Regions from separate parts of the Homo sapiens genome. Here all the other regions are linked to region 1. Evidence: fine-mapped expression QTL. A gene starts in region 1. Each other region holds a variant in brackets. All regions are shown on one strand. Distances are from middle to middle.

Region 1 (5,232 bases):
GGATTATGTGTTGATATTGCATTGATATAGAAAACTTTGGAGCACAAAGTACAAAGAGGTGTGGAAGTGTCCAACTGTAGAATTAAAGATTATTATAGAATACATAAATCATATGACAAGCTGCTTTAATTGCACAGGTCGTATGAGGTCTACACAGAATGGTCTCAAGTGTTCCAAAGCAATCTTGAACATATTGACACGTGTATTAATTGCTATCAAAGAAATCTAACTCAAAATGTGAATAAGGTATACAAATGCTAAATAAAAAATGAGGTTTCTCAAAGCCTTTGTAAATTATCATATATTAATTATATTAAATAATGTAATATATTAAATGTAATTATATGTTAAAATAGCAACTGAGAAATCAAAGAACGTTAATATTGAATTTGAACTTCCTATTCTCTCAAAAACTATTTTTTAAAACTGATAGCAACGCTAAACAAAGTATTCCACTCATAGGTTACAGAATCGAACACTATCAAAAACATGGACACAGAAGAGACTATTTTCAGCTAATACCTGTTTTCCTCTGCTTTAACAGAATCCTGAGTTGTAGCTGTGCATACAGCCCCCAGTTTTATCTTTCCTACCCTCTCTTGGAGCTCAGTGTGGCTTTGTGATGACCTTGTGTGTGTCACTTCCAGGTCATGCTCCCAAAAAGGAATGCATGTGTTCTCCCTGCACTTTCCCTCCTTTTTACTACCTGCTAGGTAGTGACGAACTAAACAGCACCATGGCCTCATTTATGGAAGTCATATATGCAGGATTGCAGAATCTCCCTACTAGTCCTGGACTCCTACCTCTAGATGTATGGAAAAAAAAAAACTTCTATTTTATTCATACCATTGTATTTTGGGCTTTCTATTGTAGGGAGAAGAGCTTAGCCTGTACCACTAATATAAAGAGATAATTTGAAAATGAGAAATAATAATTAACTCAAAGTTCTTTAGCTTCTTTCTATCTATTGACTTTGGCTGCACACCATTTTGACCATCCATAAAAATGGGTTTGTACCTAATGGAAATGTAGATCTGGATCCAAGTACAGACTCTGCCACTTTCTAGCCATGTGCCCCTAGGGCAACCAACTTTAAGTGAATTTCCTTATCTTAGAGTGGTTAATCATACAATTCAATAAAGTCAGAATTTGTTTTCAATGCCTGTGAAAGCACATTATAAAAACAAAATAATCCTGCCTGAAACCACCATATTGTGGTAGGCACAATTACTATGAATGGCCCCCAAGATTCCACCCCTGCTAATCCCCAGAACCTGCGAATATGGTGAGATCATTACTCCTGTGATTGTGATATTCTCTACAGAACTGACCTTAAAATAGGGATATTATCGAATTGGAACTAATCTAATCACTTGAGTCCATAAGAGCAAAGAGCTTTCTCTGGCCAGTGGCAGACAAGTAAGACTGCTTTAATGCTTGAGAAGGATTTGTGGTGTCTTTGAAGATGCAGATGGCCTTAAAGAACTGAAAGAGGCTCAGGCTGACAAACAGTAAGGATATAGAAATGTCAGTGTGAATTCTACCAACAATCTGAAATAGCCTGGAGGTGGATTCTCCCCTAGAGCCTCCAGAAAAGAATCCAAATCTACAGAAACCTTGGTTTCGGTTTTGTGAAATTCTAAGCCAAGTACTCAGCTAAGCCCACCCAAACTTCACATTTACAGAAGCTATGAGATAATACATTTGTGTTGTTTTAATTGTTGCATTTGTGTAATTGGTTAAGGCAGCAATAGAAGACTAGTACACACATACAGAGAAGATAAGCTATTCTGTTTACCTCTGTGCCACTTAATAGACTCTAGAAAACTGGAAGCAAGAGTATTAGTTACATACCCACTATAGTGCTTAACCCACCAACCGGTACACATTAAAAATATAAATTATTGGATTCTTTCTTGAAGAGTTTTCTTGAATTCTCAACCACAAAGATTAAGTTAAATAAGATGGTTCCAATAGCACTAAGAAAATGATTATGCTAGATTTAATTAGAATTGACTTTCTGGGGGCAATTAGATATGAATTCACAGAAAGTGGAAAAGAACCACGAACAATACGTGAAGGAATTGTCACATACCAGTACACCAAGAAGATGAACTGCTTGAGACTGCCAGGAGCCTGCTGCAACAATTGTTTTGAGATCACAGGGAACTGGACTAAGTCGGTGACTGTGGGAAGAAAGAAACAAGCTTAACAAATATTTAAGAGGGAAAAAGAAATGAACAAGCTAGTGAAAGAAGGTGGAATGCAGACAAACTAGGAGTTGGGAGTTCCCAAGACAAACTTTTCGTGAATCACTGCAAACACACGCAAATAGTCCACCTGCTAGAGAGCAGGAGTAAATGATCATACAATTAAGTAGGTTTCAGACAAGTACACCTTCCATTAGACGGGTTCAAAGGGTAGAGGATACGTTTTCAGTGGCTGGGTAACAGGTTCGTCGCAGAGTGGCAAGGGGTAGAAGCAGGAGCAGAGGGCAATGAGAGCTCGGAGGCTCTTCCCACCAACCCAAGAGCAACTCTGCACTCAAGAGGCCATCAAGTGAGAGAAATCTAAGCACTACAACGGAGCAGCCCCGCGGCCCAACCTTGAGGGTACCCCTGAGACCCCAGCAGGCGAGATGCTTGATGACACTACTCCCCCACCAAATCCAGGCACCTTTGCGGTTCTGCACGACTTAACTTTCCCCCGCCCCCGAGTTGAAGGATTAGGGGAGGGAGGGAATGCTGCTTCAACGGACCTGTCCGTCCTCACCGCCCGCGCCTCGCCGCCTCTGCCGCAGCCTCAGCCTGCAGCAGCACCGGCTCGCTCCCCCTTGGGCCTCAAAGGTGCGGGAATTGGACTGAAGGCCGCTAGGGTCCCGCCCCGCATTCGCCGGGGAACAGGATTGGATAGAAAGCCGCGAGGGTCCCGCCCCTCACTTTCCGGGGAACGGGACTGGACGGACAGCTGCAAGGGTCCCGCCCCGTGCCTGACGTCGGGGGCGAGCCGGGCCTGCGCGGTAGTGGGACCCGACCCTGTCTCCAGTGGGCGTCTTGGGCCCCGGCTCTATTCTGGGCTGCGGGCCTGGGAAGGGCTCGCCGGGTGCCAAATGAGCTGTCCTAACTCTGCGGGGCTGCAGCTTCCTGCATGATGCTGGGGAGCTTGGCGCCTGACCCAGGATCTAGAAGGCACTCTGGGCAGGCCGCGCTCCGCCCACGAAGGTACCCAACCCTCTGGGATAGATGCAGGAAGCGATGGTTAAGACCCATTTTCACCCAACTTCTCGCCGCAGGTCTGGCTTACCACACGCTCCTCCCCATTCCCAGTGAGCCGCTTTTTGCAGCACCAGGCGAACACTTACACCAGTGCTTTGTAAAGGAATCTTATTGTCCACCCCGTGTCTTGGCAAAAGAACAGTGATCACACAGATTCCTACTTGGGCTCTTTCCTTTAATCTTCGGAGGCTGAGTTTGCCCAACTCAGGTATGCCGCAGCACACTACATCATCTCGGGTCTCCTTGCTCTTCTGCAGCTCTTCATTGCTACCCAAGTTATTTGAATACCCCAGGGATGCTTACCCCCGGGCCTATCTGATGTCTTTTACTGTTGTGCCAAGAAATGGAATCTTTAACCAGAGTGGAGCTACCCAAGTTCTAGAAGATCATAATGTGATTGACTTAGTTTCACAGATTAATTCATTTTGCTTTTACCTTCTGAAATAAAATATACTGTTTCATTTTTAATTTTAAATACACTGTTTCATTTTTTTGTGGAAGGAAAGACCAAATGTTTACACTGACTCTGAACTAGTTATCAAAGATAAAGATTTAGATTTCAAATTAACATGTCATGACAGGCCCCATTCCTTTGTCTGTCGTTTCTAACTCCTTTAGCAGTAAAGTTTGACCTGAAGGGAAGTGAGGCTATGTGTAACTGAATGTTCCCTTTGTGTAAATATTCATAAGTTTTCTACAGAAATATTGTGTTTGATTACAGTACAGCTTGCTGGAAGTGTTTCATAATATATGGCAGACGTACTATTCTAAGAAAAGTTCTGAATTTTGAAACATATCTAGCCAAAAAGATTTTAAATAAGGGATTAGGAATTTGTAGTTGTAATTTCTGAAGGTGTGATAAAGAACTTTTTCTTTCATATATAAGTGCGATGCTCTGGATGATGTTAAAGTTTGCTTACAAGATAAAGTTTTTAAATTGAGTAACTAAAAACTACTCAGAAACCTTCGTTGTATTTTTTTTCTCCTTTTTAGTGAGTCTTGGCATCTCTTTAAAAGTTTATGCATGTTTAATGCCTGTTGGTGCATAGAATTTAGAACCATTTCGCTTCACTCTTTTTCCTACTCTTGTTGTTTATTTCAATGGAAACAAGATGTTTCTGTAAAGATTCCTGAATTATCGGATAGACAAAAAGGTGTGGGAGTGAAAAAATGAATGGAACACAGATTTGAGTATGTAGAAAAAAATCTTTTAAAATATGTTATACTGATAAGCATATGTACCCCAAATCACCAAAAACAGGTATTTTAAAATATGTTTGGCTTCAAAATGTGTGATATATATTTTAATGAAAGATTCCAAATTATGTTGCATTCAGGTTAAACTTGAACGAGTTTGCATTTCTTAGAGTGGAGCGGGAGATATTGGCTGGTAAGGAAGATGTTTTAGGCACTTGAAGTATTTGTGATAGCAAGAAGTTGTTCCAAGATTAAAAATTGACTATGAGTCAAAGTAACTTTTTGGAGGAAAATTTGTAAGTAGTACAAGTGGTGATAATTTTTTAAGTTGCCATTAAAAAAATCTTTTATTTTTGTTCTTCTGTAGTTCTTACTCAGCATACCACAAATTGCAAAAGACTTTATAGATAAGTCTAGATAAATTTCACCATTAAAAAGTATTAAAATGCTAGACTAAGAAGTTCATGTTTCAATCTGCATAACTGGCTTCCTGCTAAGATTTGTGACTCTAATAAGTAAGGAGATATGGTAAATAGCCCTAATCTATGGGAGACCTGTAACCTCCTTTCATTCTGATGTATAAAATGAACATGTTGAAGAAATAATTTTGTGATGTTTCTTCTTTTTAATGGGGGGGCAGTAGAAATATGGTCATTTTGGGAAGCAGCCAACAGCAAATTAAAGTACACTGGACGCAAAGAGGGCAATGTAGCATTAAAAATGAACTCCACTGCCAACAGCAGATGAACAGTGTTTGATA
Region 2 (5,232 bases), 23 kb after region 1:
TCTGAGTATATGCTAGAAATCATAATTAAGGTTATTATGTTAAGTTATTGTAAAACACAGAAATAATAAAATTTGTCAGTCATGTTCTTGACTAACTACCTTGGACATTTCACCATTCAAAATCGTCTTGTTTTAATCCTCTTTAAAGGATGGTTTATAATCAGCTATAGGACTTTGACACATGCTCTCAAATGCAAGTTTCTGATAACTTTGGAGATTATGACATTGGAATAAAGGAAAAATGTACAGGACTCATGAAGAGCTAAAATATTCATGAATATCAAGCAAAACAAGAGTTAACAAAATGGACTTTTTAACCTTTTTGCTTAAAATGTTGCTGATCCTTATTTTGTTTTTCAGAGTCAAGGAAACTTATTTTAAGCTATTTATAGCCTCTAATAATTATGTAAGGTATACTTCTGTAAATAAAATTCAGAGCATATTTATTTGTTTCTCTCTGGTTCCTCTAGAACTTGGAAAGTATTTGTGAGTATTCTTAACTCATGGCAATATAATTATTTGCATCAGCACAATGAGAATCATTTTCTTTTACAAGAGGACACAATTGGAGAAACTGGTTGTTTTCTCAAGGTTTTGACTAAAGGCTGTGCTTCCCTTTAAGGAATCGAGCTTGACTTGCAGAGCCAATAAAAGCCCCTTGGGAAAACTGCCTCATACTTTGTCTACACAGCCCCCGAACAGGGTTCCTAACCTGTGGTGAGTAAAGAATATCACTTTCTACAGGCCCAGGAACACCATGTTCTTAGGACCTCAAGGAGAGAGGAATTCACCCAACTCATAGGTATTTGAGGGTACAAACCCATGGCTGGGCTCAGCTTTAAAAAGTTCTGAGATTCCTGTGGAACAGTTTCATCAAAGATAATATAAAAACCTATGTAAAAATAATTATTCTTGCTGTGCTTTGTACAAATAATCAGGCCAAGTATAAAACTAAAGTTGATTTTGCAAACAACTCAGTCCTATCATGATTTGTTTTTTTAACAAAAATGAGTAGAGACAGAAAAATTATGTTTCAAAACATATCATATGCTTGTCATTAATTCTAATCTCATTGATTGTTTTTAAGTTTTTGCCTACATTTTAAACTAATCCTGCTTATTCCTATAAGCCAACCAGCAATCTCTGGCTGCAGCTCAGAAAGTGCAAAAAGGGATGGGTGATGTACAAATCTGAATATTCTAGTTCTTGGCAATTATCCTACAAATCCTGTCAGGTGATGGGAGTAAATAGGGTACCCATAACCCAGAGGTTTCTTTGGGAAAATAAAACCAAGGAAGTTAACCAAAGCCAAGCCCCTTGCACTCAAATCTTAGTGGGCATAACTGTGGCCACCAGTTATCTGTACATGTCAGCAGCCTTGGGATTTTTAAGCTGTGCTTATCCCCTGCTTGTTTCCTCTAATAACCCAAATTGTTTCTTCTTGCCTAAAGACTATCAAACTCCAAATGGTAATGCAAATGAAACAATACATGGATATGCCTTTCTTCCAGGAATCCTTAGACCAGCCCCAGGAGAAACCCTAGCTGCTGTTCCCCATGCAGTGCCCCTTTCCAGTAGGAAGTAGCTAGAAGAATCATCACCCCATTCCCCCTAAGACCAGTTAGGGTCTCCACCCTTGAGGAGGGAAATAAGACAGGAGAAAGGAAGAAAGAGGTCAGGGAGGCAGTTAAAGTGGGTCATTGGTTGAATTCTTTCAAACAAAAGAACAGCCTGAAGGCACATATAAGGGAACTTGCACAGGGCGGCTTGCCTAAGACATGGCCACAGCCACACAGATAAGAAAGGCTTCACAGGTGACTTGTCCAGACATGCTCAGCAAAGTTCTGCCCCCCTCACACATACTTTGGGGAACAAAGCAATTTGGAGTACCTCAAGCTAAGGGCCCACATGTACACTAGGAGGACAGGGTGGAGCTAGCAGAAATTCATGCTTTATGCAGATGAAATGCCCAGCTATCCTCTTTTATAAAAGCTTTTGCATTCAACTGTAAAAATGGCAACTCTCTTCCAGGCCCCTTCTCAGTGGTGGAGAGCTTTCTTCTTTGCTTATTAAACTTTATTAAACTTTTGCTCCAACCTCACCCTTTGTGTCCATGCTTCTTAATTTTCTTAGTCCTGAGACAAAGAGCTCTGGGTGATACCTCAAAATGAGAGATTGCTACATTGTGGTGCACTGGCAAGACTGTAACATCCCTTAAAGGCAAAAAGAAAAAAAAATAAAGAAAAGAATGCAATTTTTCAAGAGAAGCAGTAAGAAAGAAGGATATGGAAGAGATGAAAATGAGTGGATGGAATGCCAGCAGCACTTTTCTTAAATGCCACTGAAGGGAAAATGCACAGAGAACCCCCACCTAGCAACTTTTAAGTATCCCCATTAAACCACTTTATGAAAAAACACCTCAAAAAACATACTTCAGAATATTAACAATGATGATTACTGAGTGGTAAAACCATGTGTGATTTCTTTCTTTCTACATTTTCATATTCTCCATGTTTTCAATAATAAGACATTTTATA[A/C]GTTAAAGCTATCAACAGATTGGGTAATTTTTTTCTTTTTTTTTATTTTGAGACAGAGTCTCACTCTGCCGCCCAGGCTGGAGTGCAGTGGTGCAATCTCGGATCACTGCAAGCTCCACCTCCTTGGTTCACGCCATTATCCTGCCTCAGACTCCCGAGTAGCTGGGACTGCAGGTGCCTGCCACCATGCCCAGCTAATTTTTTGTATTTTTCAGTAGAGAGAGGGTTTCACTGTGTTAGCCAGGATGGTCTTGATCTCCTGACCTCGTGATCTACCCATCTCGTCTTTTTTTAAATTATACATTAAGTTCTGGGGTACATGTGCAGGACGTGCAGGTTTGTTACATAGATATACACATGCCATGGTGGTTTGCTGTACCCATCAACCCATCATCTACATTAGGTATTTCTCCTAATGCTATCCCTGCCCTAGCCCCCCATCCCCCAACAGGCCCCAGTGTGTGATGTTCCCCTCCCTGTATCCATGTGTTCTCATTGTTCAACAACCACTTATGAGTGAGAACATGAGGTGTTTGGTTTTCTGTTCCTGTGTTAGTTTGCTGAGAATGATGGTTTCCAACTTCATCCATGTCCCTGCAAAGGACATGAACTCATCTGTTTTTATGGCTGCATAGTATTCCATGGTATATATGTGCCACATTTTCTTTATCCGGTCTATCATTGATGGGCATTTGGGTTGGTTCCAAGTCTTTGCTGTTATAAACAGTGCTGCAATAAACATACATGTGCATATGTCTTTAGAGTAGAATGATTTATAATCCTTTGCGTATAAACCCAGTAATGGGATTGCTGGGTCAAATGGTATTTCTGGTTCTACATCCTTGAGGAATTGCCACACTGTCTTCCACAATGGATTAACTAATTTACACTCCCACCAACAGTGTAAATGCATTCCTATTTCTCTATATCCTCTCCAGCATCTGTTGTTTCCTGACTTTTTAATGATTGCCATTCTAACTGGAGTGAGATGATATCTCATTGTGGTTTTGATTTACATTTCTCTAATGACCAGTGATGATGAGCTTCTTTTTATATGTTTGTTGGCTGCATAAAAGTCTTATTTTGAGAAGCGTCTGTTCATATCCTTCACCCATTTTTTGATGGTTTTTTTTTCTTGTAAATTTGTTTAAGTTCTTTGTAGATTCTGGATATTAGCCCTTTGTCAGATAAATAGATTGCAAACATTTTCTTCCATTCTGTAGGTTGCCTATTCACTCTGGTGATAGCTTCTTTTGCTGTGCAGAAGCTCTTTAGTTTAATTAGATCTCTTTTGTAAATTTTAGCTTTTGTTGCCATTGCTTTTAGTGTTTTAGTCATGAAGTCTTTGTCCCTGCCTATGTCCTGAATGGTATTGCCTAGGTTTTCTCCTAGGGTTTTTTATGGTTTTAGGTCTTATATTTAATTCTTTAATCCATCTTGAGTTAATTTGTATGTAAGGTGTAAGGAAAAGGTCCAGTTTCAATTTTCTGAATATGACTAGCCAGTTTTCCCAGCACAATTTATTAAATAGGGAATCCTTTCCCCATTGCTTGTTTTTGTCAAGTTTGTCAAAGATCAGATGGTTGAAGATGTGTGGTGTTATTTCTGAGGCCTCTGTTCTGTTCTATTGATATATATATTTGTTTTGGTACCAGTACCATGCTGTGTTGGTTACTGTAGCCTTGTAGTATAGTTTGCAGTCAGGTAGCATGATGCCTCCAGCTTTGTTCTTTTTGCTTAGGATTGTCTTGGCTCTGTGGGCCCTTTTTCAGTTCCATATGAAATTTAAAGTAGTTTTTTGTAATTCTGTGAAGAAAGTCAAGGTAGCTTGATGGGGATATAGCACTGAATCTATAAATTGCTTTGGGCAGTATGGCCATTTTCACAATATTGATTCTTCCTATCCATGAGCATGGAATGTTTTTCTATTTGTTTGTGTCCTCTTTTATTTCCTTGAACACTGGTTTGTAGTTCTGCTTGAATAGGTCCTTCACATCCCTTGAAAGTTGTATTCCTAGCTATTTTATTTTCTTTGTAGCAATTGTGAATGGGAGTTCACTCATGATTTGGCTCTCTGTTGGTCTATTATTTGTGTATAGGAATGCTTGTGATTTTTGCACTTTGATTTTGTATCCTGAGACTTTGCTGAAGTTGTTTATCAGCTTAAGGAGATTTTTGACTGAGACGATGGGGTTTTGTAAATATACAATCATGTCATCTGCAAACAGAGAAAATTTGACTTCCTCTTTTCCTATTTGAATACCCTTTATTTCTTTCTCTTGCCTGATTGCCCTGGCCAGAACTTTCAATACTATATTGAATATCAGTTGTGAGAGAGGGCATCCTTATCTTGTGGCGGTTTTCAAAGGGAATGCTTCCAGCTTTTGCCCATTCAGTATGATGTTGGCTGTGGGTTTGTCATAAATAGCTCTTCTATTTTGAGATACGTTCCCTCAATACCTAGTTTATTGAGAGTTTTTAGTGTGAAGGGGTGTTGAATTTTATTGAAGGCCTTTTCTGCATCTATTGAGATAATCATGTGGTTTTTGTCATTGGTTCTGTTTATGTGATGGATTACGTTTATTGATTTGTGTATGTTGAACCAGCCTTTCATCCCAGGGATGAAGCCGACTTGATCATGGTGGATAAGATATTGATGTGCTGCTGGATTTAGTGTGCCAGTATTTTATTGAGG
Region 3 (5,232 bases), 23 kb before region 1:
GTTATAGCAACAAATGGAAACAACTTTAATGTCATATCATAAAGAAATGGTCACATCAACTATAATATATCCATTTGATGGAATTCTATGTAATAGTTTAAAAGAATAAGGTAGATGTATTTGTACCAATATGGAAAGATTACATTTATTGTTGATTAAAAGAAGCTAACTATAAAAATAACACTATTTTTTAAATGTGCAACTACCCCATGCCTCATGTCAAACAAAAAAATCAATTAACTCTAGGAAGACTATAAATACAAACGTAAAAGTCAACACAAAATTCTAGAACATAGGAAATTATCTTCTTGGCACTGAGTTAGGGAAAAATTTTTTAAAACAGAACACAAAATGTATAATCTGTATGGTAAAGATTAAAAGATTAATAAACTGGAGTTCATTCAATTAAGAACTTCTGTTCATCAGGAAGATGTGTTTAATAGAACAAAAGATCAATTATAAACATCTTCTACTCTGTGTATTGCAACACACACAACCAAGTAAGAACTCTTACCCAGAATGTAAGGAACTCCTACAACATTCACACACTAGTAGACATAACTACTTTGGAAAACTGGCATTATCTATTGAAGCTGAACATACACATATCCTATGACTCAGCAAATTCTCTCCTGGGTGTGCTCCAGACAGAAATACATGCATGTGTACACCAAAAGACTTACACAAGGATTTTCACAGCAGCCTTTTTCAAATAATAATGCAAACTGTAAACAACCTAAATGACTGCCCCTGGGAAGGAGTGAAAGTCTGGAAGAGGGATGACGGGAATCTTTGGAGTATTAGAAATGTTCTAATTTTTGACCTGGGTGCAGGTTACATGAATATTTAGTTGTACATTTCTGTGTGCAGTTTTGTACATGTTTGCAATATTTAATAAAACTAATTTAAGTTATAAATAGATATATATACCCAACAATTAGAAAACAATTAGAACAACTGATTCTCTGTTAATGATATTAAAACACTGTTTATTTGGCTGGGTGTGGTGGCTCATGCCTGTAATCCCAGCACTTTGGGAGGCCAAGGCAGGCGGATTATTTAAGGCCAGGAGTTCAAGACCAGCTTGGCCAACACGGCAAAACCTCATCCCTACTAAAAATACAATAATTAGCTGGCCATGGTGGTGCGCACCTATAATCCTAGCTACTTGGGAGGCTGAGGCAGAAGAATCACTTGAACCTGGAATGTGGAGGGTGCAGTGAGCCGAGATTGTGCCTCTGCACTCCAGCCTGGACACAAAGCAAGACTCTGTCTCAAAAAAAAAATTATTTTTTAGAAGTCATTAGGTATGATAATGGTACTAAATGTGTATTTTAAGAGTCCTTCTATTTTAGAGATGTATACTGAAATATCTATAGTGAAAGGATATTATGTCAGATTATCTTCAAAATAATCCATGGGAAAGTGAGGGAAAAGGTAAAAGAGGTATAGTTGAAACAGCATTGACTATGAGTTTATAACTGTTGATGCTAGGAGTTGGTAACTGTTGAAGTTAGGAGATGGGTACACGGGAGTTATCATTATATAATCCCCTATACATTTTGAAATTTTCTGTAATATACTTTAAAACATATACATAGAAGATGTATACCATATATATGTATATACATATATAATACATATTATATATTATATATATTTTTTAAGCTAGGTATACATGTAAATTCATTGCAACAGGTATGGAACAATGGAACACACTAAACTAGTAAGAGTGATTAATTCTGGGGCAGGGAATGGAATTGGTAATATATGTAATGTTTTCCTTTTCTCCAAGTGAACATATTTATATATGTCTAGTAAAATTTAAAAATAATTTAAATAAAAAATACAAATAGATTTTTTTTTAAAAAAGCATGCATAAAATTCTTATTTTTCAGCTTACTATCACCTTGAAAGGCAATTCTAAACATGTATATTTTAATTCAAGCAA[C/T]ACCATAAGACCTAATGAAACTCAAGAAAGTAGTCTGAAAACCTGAGAAGCTCTGGCGGGGTGACCAAACATCCTTCATGTATTACATCAAAGACAAAAGCTCGGCCTCGACACAGCACTACAATGTGGTTTGGGGAACGCCCTTCACTCTCTGGAAACAGAAACAGAAAACACAAGACTCAAATCTAAGGTTAAACAGGAGTAAAGATGCATATATCCAATAGAAGAAAAGTAGGCATTCTTCCAGTATTTTATTTATCATATAGTCATCAAATATATCACATAACAAAAATAATGTATTAATGGAATTGCAGTTACTATGATATAAATACATACTCCTGACACTTGTTCCATGTGAGACATCTAGAAATCAATGAGTTTCAAATACCCTGAAAACCACATAAATCCCAAACTACTACAGACCTTTCTAATTTTACTTAGGAACAGAAATGGGAAGGGGAGAAGGAGACCAGTGGAATCTTGGAGGACAGCCATTTGAATTAACAGGTTTCTCTTTTGGATTATTTTAATGTTAATTACTCATCAGATAATTTAATTGCAGTAATATCTAGCTATGATAACTCAATAAAATAATTTTCAGTAGAAAAGGATACAGTATGCCAGTGGCAAAGGAAAAGAATTTTGTCCAGTCTGGTAACACCTGGTAAGCCACTGACAATGGATTATCTCTGATTTCTTTGGCACACCTTAACTCCCCAAGAACTGTTTGTTTGCTGTAAACCTCAGACTATTCTGATATAACCCCATCTTTAGGTACTTGTCCTTTTGCCAAGGATCTTCTTATGTGATCCCTGCCCCTACCTTCTAAGAAAAGAAAATGGAAAAAGAGGAAGAAAGAGAAGACATACACTGCCGCTTGAAGGAAATATAGTGGTGGGTATTATTTACGGGTCAGTATTAAGTGCTTTACATACATTATCTTATGAAATCTTTTCATCAACTATGAGGAAGAACAGTCTCCTGATAAAAATACTCTTTTTTCTCTTATACCTTATTTCCTCAAGACCTAGGGGATGAGATATGTGTTTTCCTTGTTCCTCATGGCTACCTCCAAACCATTTCTTCTTTCTTCCCCTTCAAAAACCTCCAGATCCTTTTACCTCTACGACCACCACTCTTTTATTGCTGTCATCTCCTGACCACACCCCTTTCAAAGTTTAGGGCTGGAAAAGAAAAAAGAAAATAAACCTGATGCCAAATTAATCAATAAATGGTTGGAAAGGGTGAGGGTGGCAGAAGGGTGCTACCTCACAATAAACCTGGCGGATATTTGAGCAGAAAACTGAATGGAGTGAGAAAGTACGCCATGTAAATACCCGCAGAAGTGTTTCAGGCAGAGGAAACAGCAAGCACAAAGGCATTAGAATAAACATGAGTTGATCTGCTTAAAGGAAAACAAGGTCAGTGCAGCTGCGGCACAGAGAAAAGGATAGAGTGGTAGATAAGGTTGAGACCCGATTATACTGGCCTCAGAAAGTGGTTTCCAGTATGATGGGAAGGAAACCAATGGATGGTTTTAAGCAAGGGAGTGATAATGTGGTCTCACTAAAAAGATCCCTCCAGCTGTTACATGGAGAACAGATTACAAGGGTGAAGAGAAGGTATGCCAAGTTAGGAGGTGACTAAAGTTGTCCAGGTGAGAACAATCTAAGAGAGATAGGATGATGGCTTCGACTGGGGCCTGATACTTGAAGGAGACATGAGGTGAATTGTTTTCCTTTTAAGATGGAAGATATTACAGACTGGAACAATCAAGTAAAGAAAAAAACTGATAAGCAGCAGAGAGAGAGGATAATGCAAAAGCAAGTTTCTTGACTAAGCAAGAGGAAGCGGGACTCAGCACAGATATAGAAGAGTTGTCCTTAGGAGTCAGAGGAGTTCATCTGTATTTTAAAAAGAAAAGAAAAGTATATGAATTTGCAGTAACATATTGCAAGGGGGTAGAGAATGGGCAAATATTTGAATCAGTATATTTTCACTGGTTGCAAAAACAAATTACTACTGACTTGGTAGCTTAAAACAACACAAATTTATTATCTTACAGGTCTAAGGACCAGAAATCTGAAATGTGTCTTACTGGGCTAAAATGAAGGTGCCATCAGGGCTGTGTTCCTTCTAGAGGCTCTAGAAGAAAATTGGTTTCCTTCCTTTTTCCAGCTTTTAGAGGCTATCCACATTCCTTGGGCTCATGAACCCCTTCTTCCATCTTCAAAGCCATCAAGGGAAGATCATAACCTTCTCATACTTCCATCTCTTTGGTTCTCTCCTTTGCCTCCCTCTTCCATGAATAAGGACCCTTGTGATTATATACTTTGGGCACATGTGAATAATCTAGGATAACGTCCCCATTTCAAGGTCAACTGACTAGCAACCTTAATTCCTCTTTACCATGTAACCTAACATATTAACAATTTCAGGGATTAGAAAGTAGACATCTATGGGGGACCATTATTCTGCCCATCACTGAAAGGCTGGTAAATGTCATGATGGGAAGATTGCTCATATCTGTTGTGAAAAACAAGAGTTTGTTAGCTAACAAGAAGGAGAGCGAAAGGCATAAAACAGTCTTCTCTGGAAGTGAAAGAATAAGCTAACCAAGGAAGATAGCACCGTAGTGCTGGGGGCCAACTTGAGATTTAACTGAGATCATTAAGTAAGTTTTATGGTTTTCTCTGGCCAAGTAAATTGCTAGAGTAGGTATCTTTGATATGTAGAGAAAAGACAAATTAAATTTTAAACGATGTTTAGGTTTTACCACATCAGTACTGGGGAGAGGTAGCAAAGATTTGAATGTGTATGCCTGGGAGTAATGATGGTGAAGAACCAGAAAGAAGTGAAGACGGGGAAGTAGGAATGGAGCCATGAAGAGAGCAGTAGCATCATTAAACTGTAAATCACAATGTGGCCAAAGGAACAGCTGAGTTGGAGTACTGAAAGATGTAGTTTCCTAGAGCTATAAACTGAAGGAAATGAGAGCCTATGGATCGTCTACAATTGAAAGCTAAAATCATCAAGAATATGACTGAGGTAGTAATGGAAAGAAAGACAGGCACTGGAGCTAAAGCAATCAATAGATGAAGGGGAATGGGCAGGAGGAAAGTCACTGCAACAATGTAGTGGTGATATAACCTGAAGGCATTTTTTTTTCCCCAAAAAGGCTAAAATTGTTAAGGACGAAGGGAAAACAGAAAGGGCAGAGGGAAACAAAAAGGATACCAACACCTCCCACAGGCCCTGTAGTGCTATATAAAAGAAAAAAA

The links.
Region 2: its variant is fine-mapped to the expression of CROT in whole blood (TOPMed, PIP above 0.99).
Region 3: its variant is fine-mapped to the expression of CROT in whole blood (TOPMed, PIP above 0.99). The same link has a PIP of 0.9 or more in blood mononuclear cells.

The regions. Positions count from the first base shown.
Region 1 is chr7:87,343,294-87,348,525 of GRCh38, reverse strand. CROT (carnitine O-octanoyltransferase) reads right to left here and starts at 2,862. Exons shown (of 18, transcript NM_021151.4): 1 at 2,759-2,862; 2 at 2,096-2,186. TP53TG1 (TP53 target 1) reads left to right here and starts at 3,034. Exons shown (of 3, transcript NR_015381.1): 1 at 3,034-3,483. RefSeq lists a silencer at 2,837-3,046.
Region 2 is chr7:87,319,799-87,325,030 of GRCh38, reverse strand. No RefSeq gene overlaps it. Among named protein-coding and RNA genes, the nearest start is that of TP53TG1, 23 kb to the left of the region's middle. The variant A/C (reference allele first, on the strand shown) is at 2,538.
Region 3 is chr7:87,366,246-87,371,477 of GRCh38, reverse strand. CROT (carnitine O-octanoyltransferase) reads right to left here. Exons shown (of 18, transcript NM_021151.4): 7 at 1,994-2,102. It also overlaps a transcript of ABCB4 not described here. Among named protein-coding and RNA genes, the nearest start is that of CROT, 23 kb to the right of the region's middle. The variant C/T (reference allele first, on the strand shown) is at 1,952.